Homo sapiens: one gene and its partner. The protein of the gene in region 1 interacts with the protein of each later gene in a biochemical or structural test. Each region holds a gene or a part of one and is shown on either strand. Other genes may lie near its edges. The genes, in order: EIF4ENIF1 and EIF4E.

Region 1 (3,818 bases):
AAATACAAATCTCAGGCCTCTTCTCAGTGGTATTAAAGGAGAAACTTGGGGAGTAGAGCTTAACCGTCTGCATTTAACAAGCTCTTCAGGGGATTCTGGCTCTGGTTCAAGTTTGAGAACCATTGGCTTAAGAAATGATCACCTGCTCGCTGGGTGTGGTGGCTCACACTTGTAATCCCAGCAGTTAGGGAGACTGAGATGGGAGGATTGCTTGAGCCCAGGAGTTCAAGACCAGCCTGGGCAGGATGACAAGACCCTGTCACTACAAAAAAAATTTAAAAATTAGCTAGGTATGGTGGCGTATTGCCTGTAGTCTCAGCTACACAGGGGACTGAGGTGAGAGAATCGTTTGAGGCTGCAGTGAGCCATCATCGCGCCATTTCACTACAGCCTGTGCAACAAAAAGAGACCCTGTCTCAAAAAAAAAAAAAAAAAAAAAAGATCGTCTCCTGGCAGTGGTGCTCATTCAACTTTTTCTTCACCAGAAGCCCTTGTTCACCAGTTCTGGAATATAGTACCTGCTATTCTGTTAGTGATGCCATCTTCTGCTTGAAATACAAAATAGAAATGTTTTAGGCCATCCCACTATTCAGATCCATGTGGTTTTCTTTTCTGTTTTTTTGTTTTGAGACAGAGTCTCTGTCTGTCGCCAGGCTGGAGTGCAGTGGCCCTATGTCGGCTCACTGCAACCTCTGCCTCCCGGGTTCAAGCAATTTCCCTACCTCAGCCTCTTGAGTAGCTGGGACTACAGGCGCGTGCCTCCATGCCCAGCTAATTTTTTTTACATTTTAGTAGAGATGGGGTTTCACCATGTTGGCCAGGATGGTCTCGATCTCCTGATCTCATGATCCACCCACCTTGGCCTCCTAAAGTGCTCTGATTACAGGCGTGAGCCACCACGCCTGGCCTCACATCCATGTTATTTTCGTCAAGTGAATAGACTAATCTGTTTTTTTTTGTTTGTTTTTGAGACCGCGTCTCACTCTGTCACCCAGGCTGGAGTGCAGTGTTGCAATCTTGGCTCACTGCAACCTCTGCTTCCCAGGTTCAAGCAATTCTCCTGCCTCAGCCTCCTGAGTAGCTGGGATTACAGGCACGTGCCATGATGCCCAGCTAATTTTTGTATTTTTATTAGAAACGGGGTTTCACCATATTGGTAAGGTTGGTCTCAAACTCCTGACCTCAAGTGATCCACCTGCCGTGGCCTGCCAAAGTGCTGGGATTACAGGCGTGAGCTACCGCACCCGGCCAAATAGACTAATCTTATAAAGGATACATACGTTATGCTGTTCTTCCTTTGCTCCTGTGTTTTGCCACTGATTCCTTATTAAATGACTGTCACCTGCCAGTTGGACAGGGAATAAAAGCAGAGACACTCAGAACATTCAGCTTGATACTGACCAGTGTTAAACATGCGTATTAAAGTTAAGTGAATGTTGAATTATCTTAGTTTAACTTCATGTGGAATTTTTTTTTTTTTTTTTGAGACAGGCTCTCACTGTTATCCAGGCTGGAGTGCAGTGGTACAGTTAACTCACTGCAGCCTCGAACTCTGCATTCATGCGATCCTTCCACCTCAGCCTCCTGAGTAGCTAGGACTACAGGTGTGTGTCACCACACATGGCTAATTTTTTCATTTCTTTGTAGAGATAGGATCTCATTATGTTGCCCAGGCTGGTCTCCAACTCCTGACCTCAAGCGATCCTCCTGCCTCAGCCTCCTAAAGTGCTGGAATTCCAGGTGTGAGCCACTGCATCTGGCCCCATGTGGACTCCTCATAACCTTGACTAGTTACAAAGTGGCATTATTGTAGTCATTAGTGTCTCCAGGGATCTTTAAGGGAGGCCATCCTAATTTGTGGCTGGTAGGCCAATTGGTCATAGCAGTCAGTACAGCCATGTTTGTCTTTCCTTTAAAACAATCAGGAAAATGGACAAGCAGTTGAAGTGACTGACTTGAGTCATCCTAGCCTTCTTGGATATAATCAGAAGACTTGAAGCCAATCCCCAGAGAAAAGAGTAACTGATTTAAATCCTAGGTTGAAACAGGAATCAGGTGGTCCCTTTTTCCAGTACAGAAATCTTATTTGATAACTAAATGTATCTTTTATAAACTGAGTAGTAACTCAGGTGGCATTTCTGTGACAAATTTAGGTATAAACTTCTTAAACTAATTTAAGGATACCTATTTATGTTGGAGAAGGTAGAATTATGGTATGAAAAGTCATTGGGAGGACAAGGTGGGAGGATGAATTGAGTCCAGGAGTTCACGACCAGACTGGGCAATATAGTGAGACCCCATCTCGTTAAAAAAAAAAAAAATTGCCAGAGGTGGTGGTGTGCACCTGTGGTCCCAGATACTCAAGAGGCTAACGTGGGAGGATCACTTGAGCTTGGGAAGTTGAGCTTGCAGTGAGCTATGACTGCACCATTGCACTCCAGCATGGGCAACAGAGTGAGACTCTGTCTCAAAGGAAAAAAAAATTATTCAATCTTAATGTGTCAACTGTCCAGAAAACCTATCTTACTGGAAGTTGTTAGAGCAGGCTGGCTGGCAAGACCATAGAGAATAGCTTCTGACTGCTTTTTCCTACCCGTTCCTTTTTTGTTATTGTTGAGACAGAGTCTTGCACGATCTTGGCTCACTGCAACCTCCACCTCCCAGGTTGAAGTGATTCTCCTGCCTCAGCCTCCTGAGTAGTTGGGATTACAGGTGTGTGCCACCATGCCCAGCTGATTTTCTTTTTTTTAGTAGAGACGATTTCGCCATGTTGGCCAGGATGGTCTCAAACTCCTGACCTCAAGTGATCTGCCCACCTTGGTCTCCTAAAGTGCTGGGGTTACAGACGTGAGCCACTGCACCCGGCCCCTGCCTGTTCGGTTTTGTTTTGTTTTCAGAGGGAGTTTTGTTCCTGTTGCCCAGGCTGGAGTGCAATGGCGTGATCTTGGCTCACCACAACCTCTGCCTCCCGGGTTCAAGCGATTCTCCTGCCTTAGCCTCCCGAGTAGCTGGGACTACAGGCGCACGCCACCATGCCCGGCTAATTTTTTGTATTTTTAGTATAGATGGGGTTTCTCCATGTTAGGCTGGTCTCAAACTTCTGACCTCAGGTGATCTGCCCGTCTCACCCTCCCAAAGTGCTGGGATTACAGGCGTGAGCCACCACGCCCGCCCAGGAATATTTCCCTTTTAATCCCCCTTCCATAAATGTGACTTATGTGAAATTCTACATAATGTCAGAAGGTCCATCAGAATGCATAGTTGTTTCTGCATAGGATTTCTGCAGAAAGAAATGGATAAGGATTTTAACCATTGTTCTTTTGGGCTTTTGTTGAGATTCATTTGCTTTCCACTTTAATAGTGATCACCAAAAGTGGGTGTTCATACTAGTAATTCCCCAATAGGTTTTGGGAGCCTTGACACATTTTCTTTAAGGAAGGCTGCTGCAACTAAGAAAATATGTTTATGCTTCCTTGGGTGTGTGGCTCTTGGGCAATTAGCAGCTTGTTCTTGCCTAGTCAGGTTTTAGTAACCTGTGCAAAAAGTGAAGTCTCAGGTATTAACTCTTATATTCGCCATATGGTAATCTTAATGAATTCATTCGTGATCAGTAAGTTCCTATGGGTTAAGACTTTCCAGGCTAGGCACAGTGGCTCACACTTGTAATCCCAGCACTTTAGGAGGCTGAGGCAAGATGATCACTTGAGCCTAAGAGTTCAGACCAGCCTGGGCAACACAGCAAGACCTCATCTCTACAAAAAATTTTTTAAATTAGCTGGATGTGGTGGCATGCACCTGTAGTCTTAGCTGCTTGGGAG
Region 2 (3,818 bases), on another chromosome or scaffold:
CAAGGGAAGATTGCCTATTTTAGGGTAAAAATGTGTTTGACTACTTTGAGATTAGCCATAATCTGCTAAATTAGCCTTTACTTTTTTGTCCAAGTAGTTTATAAACCTAGAAATACTGGTCATTTAATTTTTTTTCCTTTTTTTTTTTTTTAAATTCCCTGATAGAACCTGAGATCGGTCATTTAGGATGTAATTTCCAGTGAAATTTGCTCATTGAGAGAACACTAGCCTAAGAGAGTAGAGAGAGGAATATGGTAGGATTTTGCAGTAGAGTTTTGTTTTTAAACTGAATGTAAACTTAAAACTATTTAGTGTCTATAGGAAGCAATCTTAAAAATAAGGTTAGATACCTTAAAATAGAACTTGTTTCTTGAAATATTTTTTAGTTCCCATATAGATCATACGAAAAGATGACTGTCTATGCCCAATAAAAATTTTTATGGTATTTCACATCATTCGTTTTAAAATCTAGTATGTTTAAAAGTGAAGACTAAAGATTTTAAATTAGTATACTTACTGATTCATACATACACACATATTTAAAAATGTGTAGCTCCTTTTTTAAGTTGTTGGAAAAGTACAAAATCATGTGTCCTTTTTTGTTTTGTTTTGAGACTGAGTTTTGCTCTTGTCGCCCAGGCTGGAGAACAGTGGCACGATCTGTGCTCACTGCAATCTCTGCCTCCTGGGTTCAAGCAATTCTCTTGCCTTAGCCTCCCCAGTAGCTGGGATTACAGGCGCGTGCTACCACGCCCAGCTAATTTTTGCATTTTTAGTAGAGATGGGGTTTCACCATGTCGGCCAGGCTGGTCTTGAACTCCTGAGCTCAGGTGGTGCACTTGCCTTGACCTCCCAAAGTGCTGGGATTACAGGCGTGAGCCACCATGCCCGGCCGATTATGTGTTCTTGATATGAAGACTATAGTAATCAGTTACTTACAGTGGGACTTTTATTTTAATTCAAAATAACACTTTAAAATTCTAGGAACTGAATATGTTTTTCCTGAGTGATAACTTGCTTTTAATTCCTGTATGTCCAAAGACTTGAGAGAGAGAGAGAAAGAGGATTGTTTCTTTTTCTTTCTTCCCCTTTCTTCACTGGGTCTCACTTGCTGAGGCTGTTTTCGAACTCCTGGACTCAAGCAGTCCTCTCGCCTTGGCCTCTCAAAGTGCTGCAATTACAGACATAAGTCCCTGCACCCGTTCTGCTTACGTTTCACAAATACTGGGCAGTTGCAAGTTTTGGCTTAGCTGTTCTTCTCTGTTAGGCCAACCAGAGTTACGCTCTGAAAGTGCCAGTTTAGGAGTTAGCCAAAAACCTGTGAGGGATTTTTACATATATTGAGGAGCCCACTTCTCATCTACAGCAGTTTTTCTCTGGTACCCTGTCCCCCAAAGCCTACCTGCCTGCCAGTCTCTCATTGTTTTCATCGAGACTCCCACTGTCTGCCTGGAAACCCATCATTAATTTTAAGCTAGTGGGATAGGAAATGTCATTCAGTAATTATCTGTTTGAACACTTAAATTTACTGGTAAGTAAATGTTGATAAAAATGTTTGGTTTTAAGGCATTACTTACTGTATGTCAATTTTCAGGCCTTAATCATTCTGTGTAAACATTTAAATTTATTCAGTTAAGTAATCAAGTTAATAAGTTCCTGTTGGGTTAAGTACTGTGATTATTGAGTAAAATCAAGACATGGTCTCCGTTCTGGGTGACTTTATAGGCTAATAGAAATTCTTGTACATGTCATATGTTGATAAGAAAAAACATATCCCTTGGGAGGCCAAGGTGGGAGGATTGCTTGAGCTCAGGAGTTTGAGACCAGCCTGGCCAACATGGTGAGACCTTGTCTCTACTAAAAATAAAAAAGAATTAGCCAGGTATCATGGTGCCTATCTGTAGTCCCAGTTACCGTGGAAGCTGAGGCAAGAAGATTGCTTGAGCCAGGGAGATTGAGGCTGCAGTGAGCTATGAGTGAGACCCCATCTCTAAGAAAAATAAAATACAAAAAAAAAAAAAACCCATATTCTTTCAAATAAATATTTACCACCTTTCTGCTCTGCATTCTTTTAGACAATAAATATTTGACTTACATATCTTGTTATGTTAACATAGATCTCTGTTGTTTGCTGCTTCAGTCTGATATCCAAACACTTGTTGCATTGCCCTTTTTTTGGTATCAGTCTTTGTCCTAGTGCCTTTCTTTGGCTCTCTTCTTTTGTTGACAACAATTTATGATAGTATGAAGAGCTACATGGAAGAATGTGGTGAACACCTATTTTAAATTACTGCCCCCAGACTACTTTTCTTTCTGATATTTTTAGATGACAGTGTTAATTTTGTCTAGCCTAAAAGAAGATTTAAGTTCAAGCCAATGTCCATCTTGTTAGGTTCCATTGAAAATATTAAGTTGCCGAACTTTTAGGTTACGATAGGGTAAACAGTATGCCATGAAGGTAAGACCTGCGCATCATTGGCTTGATCACTTTACAAAGCTTTTTTGTCATCATAATGTTGTTTTGTTTTGTTTTGTTTGTTTTTGAGACAGGGTCTTGCCGTGTTGCCCAGGCTGGTCTCAAACTCCTGGGCTCAAGCAATCCTCCTATTAATCCTCCTATTAATCTCCCGAGTAGCTGGGATTGTAGAGACGCACCACAGTGCCCAGTGATACAGTTGTTATACTCTTGAAACTTTAGTTTCCATCCTGTATCCTTCCTGATACCCCCTTCAGTACCATATGCAGTATCTTAATATGATGGTATGTTAAGAAAGATAGAAGATTTTCCCAACTTTGTTGCATAGTCTGTGACAGTCTTCCTGCTATTTAAAAAAAAAAGTGCAAGTGGAAGGATAACTATAAATACTGTTATATTTTCAAATTTGAGAAACCGTTTGCTCTTTGCTCTTAATGAAGAGATATGAGAATAGAGAATGGTTCTTTAGAGTTTGGTCTGTGGTCTGTTTTATGAAGCAATCTGCTTTAATTCCTTCTTCTTAAAAAATACTACTAGTGCCGGGTGTGGTGGCTCACGCCTGTAATCCCAGCACTTTGGGAGGCCAAGGCAGGTGAATCACAAGGTCAGGAGTTCAAGACCAGCCTGACCAACGGGGTGAAACCCCGTCTCTACTAAAAATACAAAAATTAGCCAGGCATGGTGGCACACATCTGTAATCCCAGCTACTTAGGAGGCTGAGGCAGGAGAACTGCTTGAACCTGGGAGGAGGAGGAGGTTGCAGTGAGCCAAGATCGCACGACTGCACTCCAGCCTGGGCAACAGAGAGAGACTCTGTCTCAAAAAAAAAAAATTATCAGCATATCAGTTCAGGTTTAGTTAGAATATTGCTGTCATAGATGTGTTAAGACATTTAAAATAATGTTTTATATTATTTTCCACTAGGAAACCACCCCTACTCCTAATCCCCCGACTACAGAAGAGGAGAAAACGGAATCTAATCAGGAGGTTGCTAACCCAGAACACTATATTAAACATCCCCTACAGAACAGGTAAGCTTTCTAACACCTAGGTTTTCTGAGTTAGGCCACAAGGTAAATTGTGAATGGGGCAAGTTTGAAGGGAAAGTTAGATTATGAGACTAGTTTTAGATATGCTAAGGTTGAGGGTTCTATTTTCACTTGGATGACCCATGACCAGCAGACAGTTTTATGTGTGAGTCTTGAGTTCAAAAGGAGCTATGTGAGAGATTAGTTTGAAAAGTATTGGTCATAATGGAAGCCACATTAGTAAATAAGTTCCCTTAAGGAGAAGTGAACTTGACTCAGGACAAAGACCGGGGATACTAGCATCATATAGGAGG

Evidence for each region.
Region 2: the proteins of EIF4ENIF1 (region 1) and EIF4E interact in far-western blotting, tested with the Homo sapiens proteins (one study listed by BioGRID).

Annotation. Positions count from the first base shown.
Region 1 is NC_000022.11:31,479,832-31,483,649, reverse strand, and holds part of EIF4ENIF1 (eukaryotic translation initiation factor 4E transporter), read left to right. Parts: intron 1-3,818. UniProt on the Homo sapiens protein: EIF4E-binding protein that regulates translation and stability of mRNAs in processing bodies (P-bodies). Plays a key role in P-bodies to coordinate the storage of translationally inactive mRNAs in the cytoplasm and prevent their degradation.
Region 2 is NC_000004.12:98,901,565-98,905,382, reverse strand, and holds part of EIF4E (eukaryotic translation initiation factor 4E), read left to right. Parts: intron 1-3,400; coding exon 3,401-3,507; intron 3,508-3,818. UniProt on the Homo sapiens protein: Acts in the cytoplasm to initiate and regulate protein synthesis and is required in the nucleus for export of a subset of mRNAs from the nucleus to the cytoplasm which promotes processes such as RNA capping, processing and splicing.